2 linked regions of the Homo sapiens genome follow. The protein of the gene in region 2 interacts with the protein of the main gene of each other region in a pairwise test. Each region holds a gene or a part of one and is shown on either strand. Other genes may lie near its edges.

Evidence for each region.
Region 1: the proteins of TEX9 (region 2) and NOL4 interact in binary tests that used the Homo sapiens proteins (3 or more experiments, as listed by UniProt).

What each region holds. Positions count from the first base shown.
Region 1 is NC_000018.10:33,955,892-33,962,919, reverse strand, and holds part of NOL4 (nucleolar protein 4), read left to right. Parts: intron 1-4,501; coding exon 4,502-4,681; intron 4,682-4,790; exon of another isoform or gene 4,791-4,900; intron 4,901-5,402; coding exon 5,403-5,594; intron 5,595-7,028.
Region 2 is NC_000015.10:56,389,404-56,396,431, reverse strand, and holds part of TEX9 (testis-expressed protein 9), read right to left. Parts: intron 5,190-7,028; coding exon 5,014-5,189; intron 2,268-5,013; coding exon 2,185-2,267; intron 1,772-2,184; coding exon 1,598-1,771; intron 1-1,597.

The DNA.
Region 1 (7,028 bases), on a different chromosome or scaffold from region 2:
GATTGCACGTTCTTTAAAACTTGAGTAAACAGGGCTATACATTTTTTACTGTTCCAACTGGTTCTGTGTCCATCAAACAGCTGCATTGAATGAATTAGCCCAGAATATTTGCATTCAAATAACCATATTGTAACATTTTTAAATATTTCACATTGCCATTCAAAATATATTATGCTTATTACATTTTAGATTTAAAAAGATAGACTTTTCAAACCTATGGAATATTTTCCTTAATATATTTTATTAGCTAATTCCACCTTGTTAATGATGTGAACTGTAAAGATATTATGCTGATTTTTAAAATTTAACTTTACTGTTAATGTCAGAGATCTGTTCTAGTTTTATTATTCCTCCACTGACTATATAGTTATGATATGTTAGTATGATCCTTAAAGCATGCTACACATATGTTATCATTGCATGGAGGCAGTTTTGAACACTGTCAATTTAAATTTTCCCTTCATAAAGGTTATTCACTATCATTTTACTTTGTTGGTAGATTCGAGAATATCTCCTGCTGCTTACAAAGATAGTATTATTCATTTGGCTGGGGCCATCTATATATTTGAATGATCATGTGTGAAATCTATATTGTTAATCTGGCTTCTAATGATTGGTGGCTGTGCCACTCCAGATTCAATCTCAGGTGACTGAAACTCAAATTTAAGCAAAATTTAAAAGCATGTGGGTGGGTGGAGGATGTATGGTATTATACAACTTAAGGGTCCAGGGCTTAATTTCAGTAATAGTGAGATCTAGATGCACAAATGATGCTATCACGACTCTATGCTCCTTAGCTCTGCTGGATTCAGCTTGATTTGACTCAGGCCAGCCATCTCACGTAGAGGCAAAGATGCATGCTTAGCATAGAGAAGGTTGGTACCCAAGGGATTGGCAATTTTACCTGGTAGAGCGAGGGGCCATTTCTGAAAGAAAAAGGTGCTGGGCCAGCAAACAAGTAGGAGATACCATAACAGGCCCCGTGGTTGGTCTTGGACACAATTATAGAAGTTAATGAAAATTGTCTGGATTGGCATTCATCTTCCTTTACACACTTGCCTTTCTCCTTCTACTTTGGCAATCCACTGAGATTCCAAAACTCAACATTTTCATTTCTTTTGCTAACTCCCATGATCCTCCAATGCTGAAATCCTGTGTAGTGTTACCAGCCCAGTGATGAATGGATGGCCTCTACTTAACTTCTCTACCACTCTTCTCAGTGTCGGAGGTTATCTCATCAAGTTAAATTAACTGAGCCTTAATGAAGTCATTGATAATGTGAATAATATAATTACTACTCAGGGTTCTCCAGAGAAACAGAATCAATAAGATATATAATATATAGAATAAAGTATTGGCTCATGAGATTATGGAGACTGAGAAGTGCCATGATCTGCTATCTGCAAGCTGAATATCCAGGAAAGCCAGTGGTGGAGTTCAGTTCAAGTTTGAAGCCCTAAGAACCAGGGGACTCAGAATTCTCAGTAAGTCTCTTAGCTCAGCAGTCAGGCAGAATAGGCAAATTTTCCTTCCCTCTGCTTTGTATTCTATTCAGGCCCTCAAGACACTGGATTATGCCCTTAGGCCCTCCCCTCACCCACCCTACACACACACTGTGAAGAACAATCCGTTTTAGTGAATCCACCACTTCCACTGCCAATCTCATCCAGAAGTATCCTCACAGACACACCTGGAAATAATGGATAGCCAAATACCTGGACACCGTGTCATCCTGTCAAGTTGACACATAAAACTAACTGTCAGATATATTAATATCATTTATTATTATTATGTATATATTTGAAACCATTTATAATGTAATATATTAATATATTAATACTAGTTCTTCTGTGAAGTTATTATGTCAAGGTTAAAGCTCCATGTAAATTTTAAGATGCTTCATTAATACAAAACATTATTAAATAGGCTCCAGCCCATATAAAATACATATATTCTATTAGATTGGCTCAGGGGAAATTCATAGTTAGATGTTAAATAATGAAATGGGTTTAATATGTCTTGTCACAGAGGTACTTCTATTTTAAAAGTTGGTGTCAAGAAATACAGTGCCTTAGGAATTGATTTCTACTGATATTATAACAATAACCTCATAAGTAGTCATGCTATAGAGACAGCATAGAATAGTGTTAAGATGATAAACTCAGAGCCAAACTGCATGGGTTCAGATCCTTTTTCACTTGCTAGCTATGTGACATTGGGAAAATCACTTAACCAGTTCATTGTAAATGAGTCATATATTTAAAAGGCTTAGAATAGTGCCTGATGCATAATAGCTGCCCATAAATACTTTGTTGAATGAAAATTGCTCTGTGGCAGAGTATCTTGGCACAAAACCAAATGTGTAGTGATACTTAATGTAAAGGTTTGCTGAGGGAAGAAATGATTGACTTTGAGATAGATACTTGGAGTTGGAGCAGGAGATTTTAGAAATTACTACTAACCATGTTGGTCTTAAAAGTTGTATGTTATTGCTGTTTATTAAGAGTTTATTCTCTTAAATATATATTTTTCCTAAAATAAATATATTCCAGAATATGTTTAGTCCTAAGTTGAAAAAAGAAAGCTTGTCACTATTTCCTTCTATAGATGTTTTGTATTTAAGAAACTGTAATTATCTGCATTTGATTACAATAGTGTATCTTTATTCTACTTTATCCAGCAAAACAAATAAGCAAAACTGTGTATGAAGCACTAATAAATTATTTAAATAGATTCTATTATATGTGGAAATTTTATAGCAAGTGATAATTCTTCTTACTCAAGATTTATAAATTGCAGCTTACTGTTCTATAAGAAAATGTAAATAATGTATCCAATTTATTTAGGTGGAATAGCAGTTTTAGGGGAAATCACTTATAAAATATTTTGTTTAAAGATTAACATGTACATAAACCAATGCATATTTTATGTTCTTTCAATTATACACACATGTGCATACACGCACACACACACACACACACACTTAGAAAGAAAAACTTCATATCGAGGAGAAAACCTTATGTGATCACTCTTAGCTCTTAGGCAGACCTAGGTTCACACAGTAGTTATATAATCTCATTCTTTAGATAAGAAGAGGTTGTTTAGATGTTCTAAAGCTGTTTCCTTATCTGTAGAATCTGGAGGATAATCCTTTCTCACCAGGTTGCTATGAAGCTTAAGGGAACCAATTGACTAGGTATGCAGTTGTTCTAAGTACTAATTTCTTCTCTTTACCTCTCACTTGCTTCATTATTTGCTTTATTGTATGTGATGTCTCAAAAAATATCTTTTATATCATGAAACAGAAATAAATAGAGAATACTCATTTTTAAATTTGATTACATCTTAGTTTAGTATCTTATCAAAACTACCTAGAATATGCTAAGAAGATTGATCAATGTTATGGTCTCAAAGAGTATATAAAATAGTTTGTGGTTATGCTGTACATGGCTGATTCAAGCTCCTTATCACACCATATACTTGGATTTTCTGTATTTCCAGGTCACTCTTCCAAACTTACTCTGGAATAATCCTAGAGGGTCCCAAGAGAAAATATTTGGAATAAGTGTAATCCCAAAATGAAAAGTGATCAAAGCCAGTTTATTTATTTTAAACAGCCCCATTAACATGTAGATATACTTATGCATTGTATTCTGACAACGGAGGCTCTACGAAGGCTATCTATCAGCTGTTTCATGTGAAAATGAACTGTTAAACATTTTCAATTTTTCAGATGTTTAATTATTTTTACATGGAAATATGTGTCACTATTATTTAATTGTTCTTGCTTTAAATTTGTTGTGTCTTTTGAATGGTGTTAGAATCCAGAAACATTAAACTTAACAGAGGATTAGGAAGAAACCCGGTTCCCATTTTCTAAACCCAAATCAGATGACCTCTTAAGACTCATAGACAATTAATACATTTATTTTAAAGCATGTTAACTAATAACTAATAGTCAATAATATTTTGTATAGCTCTTGCTGGGTAAGTTAATTGAACATCCCTCAGTTTCCATAACTGTTTAAAGAATACTAATAAAGTTAGCATAATACTGATATGATATAATACAATATTATATAAAGTGTAATACTAGTACTAATATTGACAATGCTCTGAGGTCATATTAAGTTCTAAGAATATGTGACTCAATGATTCCCTTGCAAAATCGATTACAGATTGCTTTTTTATTTGGAATATGAGTATTGAGAGGAAACACTAATTGCTCTTGCATAGCTAAGTTCAATAAAACTTTCTGCAGTGAAGGAAACGTTCCATGCAGCTAACAAGTACTTGCAATGTAACTAGTGTGACGTGACCAAGGAAATGAAATTTTAATTTAATTTGAATTAATTTTTATTTAAACTAAAATCACCACAGCTCTAGAGTTATCAACTCATAAACAAGATTTTTGAGAAACAGTTGAAATTAAAGATGAAACATAAAACTTATAAGCTTGTGCAATGAATTTAAAAGCAGTTATTTCACCTTCTCTTTTCAGTCTCCTGCACATAGTTACTCCAGCTATGACTCTGGCAAAAATGAGAGTGTAGACCGAGGAGCTGAGGACCTCTCACTAAACAGGGGAGATGAGGACGAAGATGACCACGAGGACCATGACGATTCGGAGAAAGTTAATGAGACAGACGGCGTTGAAGCCGAGCGGCTGAAAGCTTTTAATGTGAGTCCTGCCACACTCCAAGTGTGGTTTAATTTTTACCACTTCACTTTCATGTTGTTGCTTGTTGGTAAATGTGGATATTTTAGAGACATGTTTGTTTAATTTACAGAAGGATTTAAAAAGTACATGAAACACTCTTTGCCAACCAGACACCAGAATTGCTGTGTTTTGTTTAGAATTTTAAAGCCAAATGTGAGCTGAAAACTGGAGTTGTGTTGTGTGAGTATGCATGTTTACCTAGTGGATGGAGGGGGCCTCAGCTTAGTCCTCGGAAGAGTACGCCCGTCATCTGTTATTTCTTTTGCTTTCCTAGCTTATCTAATTATGCATGACAAAAGAGTCAGTTGTTTGATTTCAGAGATTAGTCCACTGTGCAGTGTAGCAATGTAACAGTCGTATTCATCATTAATAGAGATTGTAAAGGGGTGCTCAATTGTCACAGTCTCTGTTATTTCCTGATTTTTTTCTACACGATAGTCTATTCTTTTCTGTATGTTTGTCTGTCTGTCTGCCTTTCTCTCTTTTTCTCTCTATTTTTTAATCCAACCATTTAGAAAGTCTTTAAAGAGTGTTTGCTTAAAATTTCTGGCTTTCCATTGCAAAGTTCTCCAGTGCATAAACCAGAAAACAGTATTTTCCTATCGGTAATCAAGACAGGAAGCTAGGAACAGAAGAGAGCAGCCCTCCAAACCCTTCTCCTCTGTCTCCCTCTTGCCAACAGATGTTTGTCAGGCTGTTTGTAGATGAAAACTTGGACCGAATGGTCCCAATCTCTAAGCAGCCCAAAGAAAAGATCCAGGCTATCATTGACTCATGCAGGCGACAATTCCCTGAGTATCAAGAGCGTGCCAGAAAACGTATACGTACTTACCTCAAGTCCTGCAGGCGGATGAAAAGAAGTGGTTTTGAGATGGTGAGTTTTGAATTAAAACACAGCCCTAGACTCCATCAAAATCCCACATGTAAACCATGACACTATTTTTTTTCCATCTTAGTGTCTTTTTTTATTTTTTTCCATAATGTCAGGTCAAAGGGGGTTTTGTTTGCTCGTTTGTTTTTTCCCCTTCTCCTTTTCATCTTCCTGAAGTATTTATTCTCTTTGTTTATTTAATAAGGAATATCTTGTGAGTCCAGTGCTCACAGAACCACGTGGTACCATGTCACAGAAAATAAAGGTGATATGAGTAAACACCAGTGAGAACCAGCATCTCGTTCATATTTGTTTTCTTTCTGTCGCTACTAAAGTGGGCATGAGGTTATTTAAGTTGTGAACTGAAGCACCAGTCACTGCTTGAGATGGCATGTAACAATGGCATTCTCTAAATCAAAAGGAAACAGATGGATCTACCTAGGAATACCATTTTCATATCAATGGTTAACAAATTGCAGTCCTTGAAAGTAAAGATCAGAGAATGAAAATGCTTAGGTGAAATATAAGGATTTGTTGTACTGGATATGTTTATTTGTGTGCTGGTGGATGGTACCAAGAGCTTTCATATTCAGGTGGATGTTATAGACAGATGAGATTATGTTGACATTAGATTACTGATAGGGTGGAGATTAGAAATCAATGATTTTTAAACTTTATTCTATTTCACCTTGCTCTAATTGTTACATCTAGAAATAACGCACACATTTACAATGTATGCCTTTCCCATTTTCTTATTTCCTATGTATGTGAGCAGTTTCGAAATTTTGTGAAACCATTTTTTTCTTGTCTTATTTGAGAAGGCGCCATAAAAGCCTAGGCTGTTAGTGTTTGTGATCTGTGAATCTAATTAGTTAGGTGTGATTGGGTAGGAATTGGTGTACATAAGAGAGGTTTCAGAGTATGTCTGTACCAATTATCTCAAATCATAAAATCTCCAGAGTTGGATATAAAAGGCCATGCTTTATGAAAGATAAATCTAATAAATCTAATGTTTGATCAATACTGTCTTCATTTTCATTAGATTTTAGAAACCCAATGAGTTAAGTAACCATTAAATTAATCTGTAGACAAATATATCAAATTGTTATTGAGTCTGTTGTGTGGCTTTGATGCTCAAATTCAGCAATTTCTCTGAAGAATATTTATTGTTCCAGAAGGTGTCCTGATCTTAAATTCATAGTAATAGAAAAGTCCATAAAAAGCACAGCTTTATGAACAAGGTAGGGCATCTCCAATAGGTGACATGATTTCTGTTTTTTGTTTCCTGAATTTGCATTATGAGACTCTTTCACCAAGGTGCATACATGTATTTCTGTAAAACCCAAATGACAATATTTAGGGAATATATAGGAGACTTTTAGTCCATTGCTCCTCTTGTATCCCAAGTTTTGCCACTGTACCTAGTTAAACCAAATA
Region 2 (7,028 bases):
TTTGGGGGGCTGATGGAACTGTTCTATGTCTCAATTATAGTGATAGTTATATTACTGCATACATTTGTCAAAACTCATAGAATTGTACACTAAAAAGTGTGAATTTACTGCATATAAATTTTGTCTAAGTGATTTTGATATTAAAATTTATTACAAGATAAAGCTAATTATACAAGACCAAAATGTTTAAAAAGCAGGGTTTTTAAATATGACCATACAAACGAGAAATGTAAGGGTACTAATAAAGGGGGCACATTTTCTTACTAAATCTCGGGATATGCTATATTACATAATTCTTATCGTCACTACATTTTACAAAGCAATCTCAAACAGTATATTTTTATTTTCACAATGGCACACTAATATAAGCTAGGATAGTTTATTTAAAATACATTCTCCCCTTAAATATGACACCAAAAGCACAGGAAACCAAATAAATATTAGATAAACTGGACTTCATCAAAATTTAAAACTTTTGTGCCTTTAGAGTACCATAAAGAAAGTGAAAGACAACCCACTGTAGGGGAAAACTATTTGCAAAATATACCTGATAAGGGACTTGTATCTAAACACATAAAGAACTTAAAAGTTCTTATTATTCAGTAATTTTTTCAAATCCAATTTAAAAAATGGGCAAAGACCTTAACAGACATTTCTCCAAAGAAAATATACAAATGCCAATAAGCACATGAAAAGATGTTCAACATCATTAGTTATTAGGGAAATGCAAATCAAAACCACAATGAGGTAACCCTTTTACACTTGCAGTATGGCTATAATCAAAAAGATAATCTAGCAGATGTTGGTGAGGATGTGTAGAAATTAGGAGCTTCATGCACTACTGGTAGGAATGTAAAATGGTACAGGCAGGTTGGAAAACAGTCAGCAATTCCTCAAAAGGTCAACATAGGATTTCCATATGACCCAGCAATTCCATTCCTGGCTATATAACCAAGAGAAATAGAAACATACGTGCACACAAAAACTTGTACATGAATATTCAAAGTATTTAAAATTGTCAGACAGTAGAAACAACCCAAATAACCTAAAGCTACGAACTGATAAACAGATAAATTAAATGTGTTATATCCATATAACAGAATGTTACTTGCCAATAAAAAGAAATAAAATACTGATAGGGGCTGCAACATGAATGAACCTTGAAAATATCTTAAGTAAAAGTCAGTCACAAAAGACCACATATTATATGATTCCACGTATATGTGATTTCCAGAATAGACAAATTTATTGAGACATAAAATAGAATAGTGGTTGCCTAGGGCTGTAAGGGATTGAGGGGAGCAGGGTCAGGGTGTGGTGGCTAAAGGGTATGAAGTATCTTTTAGGGATTATGAAAATGGTTGTGGTGATAGTTGCACAATTCTATGAATACACCAAAAGCCATTGAATTGCATACTTTAAAAGGGTGAATTACATCTCAATAAAGTTGTTAAAAATATTCTATGTAAGGGGAAAGAGTTTTCAGTAAATACTAATAAAATAACTGAACTGTCAAAATGGCATCTATACAAATGTGTAACCTTAATAATTTTCTTGTATCTGTGGCATTAAGTTAGGAAAAATACCAAATAATTACCCTTTCTACTGAAGACAACTGTTGCTGTAATCCATCATACTTTTTGTTTGCTTCTTCGAAAAGAGTTTTGTATTTTTCTACTTGAGACTGTTGCATATTAATTGTTCGCTGCTGTCTCATAAAATCTTCTTCAAAATTTTTTACTTGAGACTTTAAATTCTGAATTTCATCCTCCTATAGTTATAAAGTTATAGATTATGTGAAAAAATATGTAAGATTTGTTATCAAAACAAAGCAGAAAAAAAGACGTTTCATATGTTCTTTGATATTTATACACGTTTCATGAAAAACAAATTAGTCTATTTTTATCTTCAAAAATGGAAGTCAAATGTTTTATTTGCATTTAATAGCTTACACTACATTTGTAAGACTAATATAGAGAATTCTAATTGTAGCAAGAATTTAAGATATTTCAGCTCTGTGAAAATTCAACATCTCAGAATAAAGTTCAGTACTTATATACAATTTTTGAATTCAAAATTTAACTATGATTTATATCTAAATAAAGTAATTCAAAAAATGTAATTGAAATTGCTCCTAAAATATCTTTGAATATTAGAGCCTTTTAAGAGGTTTTTAAAACTTACCTTTTTATTGCATTCACATACAACATTATCCAATTCCTCCTGCATAACATGGAGTTTGGCCTTTAGAAATCTGATCTGTGCTTCTGTGAATTTAAATAATTATATTTACTGTCTTTTGCTGAATCTAAGATGACATCAATTGTAAGACAGACCATTACTTTATAAAGAAGAAAATACTCAAGATGGGGAGTCAAATAGGAGATATCTGTTAGGGGGCACTATAGGTACTCAACAGTCCTAATGAAAAGGTCAATGACGAATAAATCCACTCAACAGAAAGAAATCACAGGTAGTATTCACATAAGTTTGCAGACTAAATTCACACGCACCAGGGTGGTCCAAACTACATCAGATTATTTAAAGTGTTCTCAGGTCAGTAATGTCCCTGAGAGTTTGGCAGAAACAAACATAAATCTTCTCTAGCAAAACTCAGCTTCAGTGCAGCCACTGTGATTACAAAATGCCACTGACTGTAACACAGATCCCAATTTCTGAGCAGTTAAAATGTAGTATATGTGTCTTTGAAGCAAAGAAATACACTAATACCTTACTGTCTAAGCTTTCTCCCACAAACCTTCAGGATCTATCTTTGGTACTTTACTGCCAGCAAAAGTTCATTATTCAATAATATCAGCAGTAAATCTTTGAAGTTTATAGGCCCATAAAGTAAATAAAGTGAAAACTGAACTTAGAACTCACTCATAAGTCATTCAGTGATTTGTTCAAAATGGCATAGTAGGAATATTATAAAACAACCCTTACCATCATGGAATTTATCTTGAGGAAACACTTGGAACTGCTCTGAGAAGTCATTAGGACAAATCTCACTAAGCCATACACATGTGACGTGCAGAGCATAAAACATCTCCATACACACTTCCAGCTTTTTTAAGTGCCCTCAGTGTTATCATGGAGCTGATGAATTATGGTTGGCTCTAACCCTACCTAGGTCTCTTTGGCCTCAACTCTCCTACCAGCCTCTCATGTAACTCCAGGTGAGTAGGGAGTAGAGGGAAATGACAAATTAAAAAGGGTGAAGTTGACAGTAGTTGGCCTCTGAGGGAAAGAGGGAAGAAAAAATAGGAAAGCATGACTTTTCCCATTTCTTTTTCTCCCTAACTCTAACCTTAGTAACTCTACCTCAACTCTAACTCAAGGAGCAGAGTGCTCCCATGTCTGGAGGCCCACAGTACTAAACTCTGCTCCCCACTCGACCCTAGCTTTAATCTTACAAAGTAATCTGTGCTCCCAAATTACCTCTTGGTCTTTTTCTCCCACACATAACCAAACCATTCCAAGCAATCATCTAAAATAAGAGAAAATTCTCCCAAAAGAGAAGACACCTAGGCCAGTGATACTAAAAAGGGAACACAGGGAGGCAAAGTTCTAACAGGGCCATGGGACATGGGACCATGTTCCTCTACCGAGGAACAATCAATGCCTGTGCATCACATCCTCTAAAGCATCTTAGAGAGACCTAAAGGCAACTTACTGCTCCATTTACCTTCCCTTACCATAACTAGCCCTAGAAAGCTTGATTAGATCAGTAAATATAGTAAGTGCAGAAGAAAACTGCTCCCTACTTGTGATTAGTAACACAATAATTATTATACATATAAATTATGATTTTTCACAGAATCAGAGAATTTTAAAGATAAACTGATATGGTTTGGATCTGTGTCCCCACCCAAATCTCATGTTGAATTGTAATCCCCAGTGTTGGAGGTGGGGCCTGGTGGGAGGTGAATGGATCATGGGGGTGGTTTCTCATGAATGGTTTAGTATCATCCCTTTTAGTAGTGTCCTCATGATAGTGAGTTCTCATGAAATCTGGTTGTTTAAAAGCATGTAGCACCTCCCCCGTCTCTTGTTCGTGATCCCACCGTGTGAGATGCCTCACTCCCTGTTTGCCTTCCGCCATGATTGGAAGTTTCCTGAGGCCTCCCCAGAAGCAGAAACTGCTATGCTTCCTATACAGCCTGCAGTACCATGAGCCAATTAAACCATTTCTTTATAAATTACACAGTCTCAGGTATTTCTTTATAGCAGTGCAGGAACAGACTAATACATAAACTTAATGATCATCTAATACAAACTACTAAATTTTCAAATGAATAAACTGCTATTACAGAGGGGCTAAGTGGCTTGCCTGTAGTCACAATTAATTGTATTATAGTTCAGCAGTAACTAGTTCATATATACTCAATTGTCTTACTTTTTTGTTTCAATAGCATAGGAGGCTCCTCATAAATTTACTAATGTTTTCAGTTGATCAAAATTTAGTATTATTATTCTAGTGATATGCAAAGAATGAGTTAATAAGAAGAAAAATTATATTCATTAGAACACTCATTTGATTGTTTTACCTGATGCAATGTCAATTCATTTGTCCTTTTGCATGTGTTGATTTAACATGCAATAAATAAAATATATTAACAGTAAATGAAAAAATTCAGAAAAACTTTTTTAATATTTTAACAATAAGCAATGGGTATTTTAACTTAAGTTGAAATGTATTCAATCAAATCAGTACAATATAGTCTTTTTTATTTTTACTTTTTATAATGGAAAATATGAAACATAAAAGTAGGCGAGTTCAATGAACCTCATTTACCCACCACCTATCTTTAACAATGACTGACCCATGGCCAATTTTATTTAATCTATAATCCCATTCATTCCTCCCTCCACCACATCCTACTAGATAATTCTGAAACAAACCAAGACATCACAATACATTTTTTTAAATGGAAGAAATAGTTCCCCAAGATTTCTTCTTCTAAGTAACTGTGCTATAAAGATAAAAATAAAAAACTAAAGAAAATCTACCTGTTCCAATGTCATTACTAACACCAGAAAAAATATCATCTATATATTCAGGTAAGCCTTCTTCCTCCAGTTGCCCTTCAATTTTGCTAATTGTTTTTGCAAGGGAAAAGTCTGAGAAATCCTCTGGAATGGCAACATCGTCGGCAGTTTGGACATCAGAGTATTTCAATTTAACACTAAAAAATAAAAATTAAATACATATGTATGTATATACGTACATATGAACAAAATAGGAAAGGTAGACAGGATATATGCCTTTTACCCAAATAAGCAGATCAAAATTATTATAAATTTAAATTTATGATGAAATCTGTAATTGATATTTTTAAGGATTATATTACAAGAGACTACTATTACACATTTTAAATTTATGATGAAATCTACATGTGATACTTTCAAGGACTATATTACAAGAGACTTAGCAGATTTTTGGTTTTTATGAATCATGTGACCACAGAGCTAGAGAAGGCTTTATGAGGCCAGATGGTATAGACTTTGCTTCCAAATAAGGCAATACCAAAACTAAGAGTATTGCACTTGGCCTCCTAGGTCAAATCCAGCCTATGACTTTTAAATTTACACGCTTCTAGAGAAAAACTGTACAAACTGACATCATCCTGGCCATAATTCTACAAACAGCAAAGAAAAATACCCCTTGAGAAAGAATTACAGAGTGAAGAGCTAATAGCTCAATCAAACAACATTTTTTCCACCCAAAGAAACACATTCTTAACCACAATCAATACTAACCAAAAAGTTGGATGTGAATTTTTTTTAATGAAAAGGAGAAGACAGACAAAATCAAACTCATTTCTAAAGGCACTGAGGAATAGTCCAGGCCTAATTCATTGACACATCAACAAATTTATGGTTCTGAAAGCCAAGTTCACTTTTAAAACATAAGCAAAGGCTTCACAATTCATTTTAATTTTTTGTGGGTACACAGTAGGTATACACATTTATGAGGTACATGAGATGTTTTGATACAGGAATGCAATGTGAAATGAGCACATTATGGAGAAGGGGGTATCCATCCCCTCAAGCATTGTTTGAGTTACAAACAATCTAATTACACTCTTTATTTTAAAAATATAATTAAGTTATTATTGGCTATCGTCACCCTATTGTGCTATCAAATAGTAGGTCTTGATCTTCAGAATTCTATTTGAAAAATCAACTTTTTTTAAAAAAATGTGAAGTCTGAAAAGATAACCCTTTCCAGTTATATATGCATGTATGTGGCATGTATGTTCTTTTCTTCAATCTATTGTATAGTTAATTTCTGTTCCTTATCACTTCACTCTATTTTTTCCATCCCTTTTATTAAAAAAAAAAAGTTATTTAAACAATTAAGACACAAAAGTGAACAAAGATTTTTCCAGAATTACAATACAATGATCAGCCTGGGTAAGTAATAGACAAATAAATTTAATAACTTACTGAAGATGGTTGGTGCAACCCAATCCTCCACCTTTTCTAGAAGGCATCCTATCCTAGGGAGCATCTTGGGTCCCTTTTTATGCTTATAATACTAAGAACCGTCTTGAATTCTTTCTCACCCAAAACAACAAAATGTAAATTATAATTATATTATAGTCCTATTTAGAGCATGCCAAATCATTCTGTAGCTCAACAGACAAAATAATATATGCATTTTGTCAAATACTCAAAAACTACACTATTGAGCCTATTTGGGAGAACTAGGCAGAGATTAAAAAAAAAACCCAGTTGTAGTCACAGTTCTAAGAGAATAACTCACTAGAAATAACATTTATAAAAATTTTAGATTTAGCAATTTTGCTTAAGAGAACAATATAAAATATTTGTTAACTGCTGCAAAACATTCCTGAGTAGAAAATGTTCTAAATTACTGAATGTGGATAAGATATATGTGGTGTAACTTAATGTTTAGGGTGTAAAAAGATCTGGAAAAACAAACAGAGCTTAATAATTAAGAATGATGGTATTGTGAATTACAAAACTAAAAAAAAAGAAATACTTTGAAAACTATACTA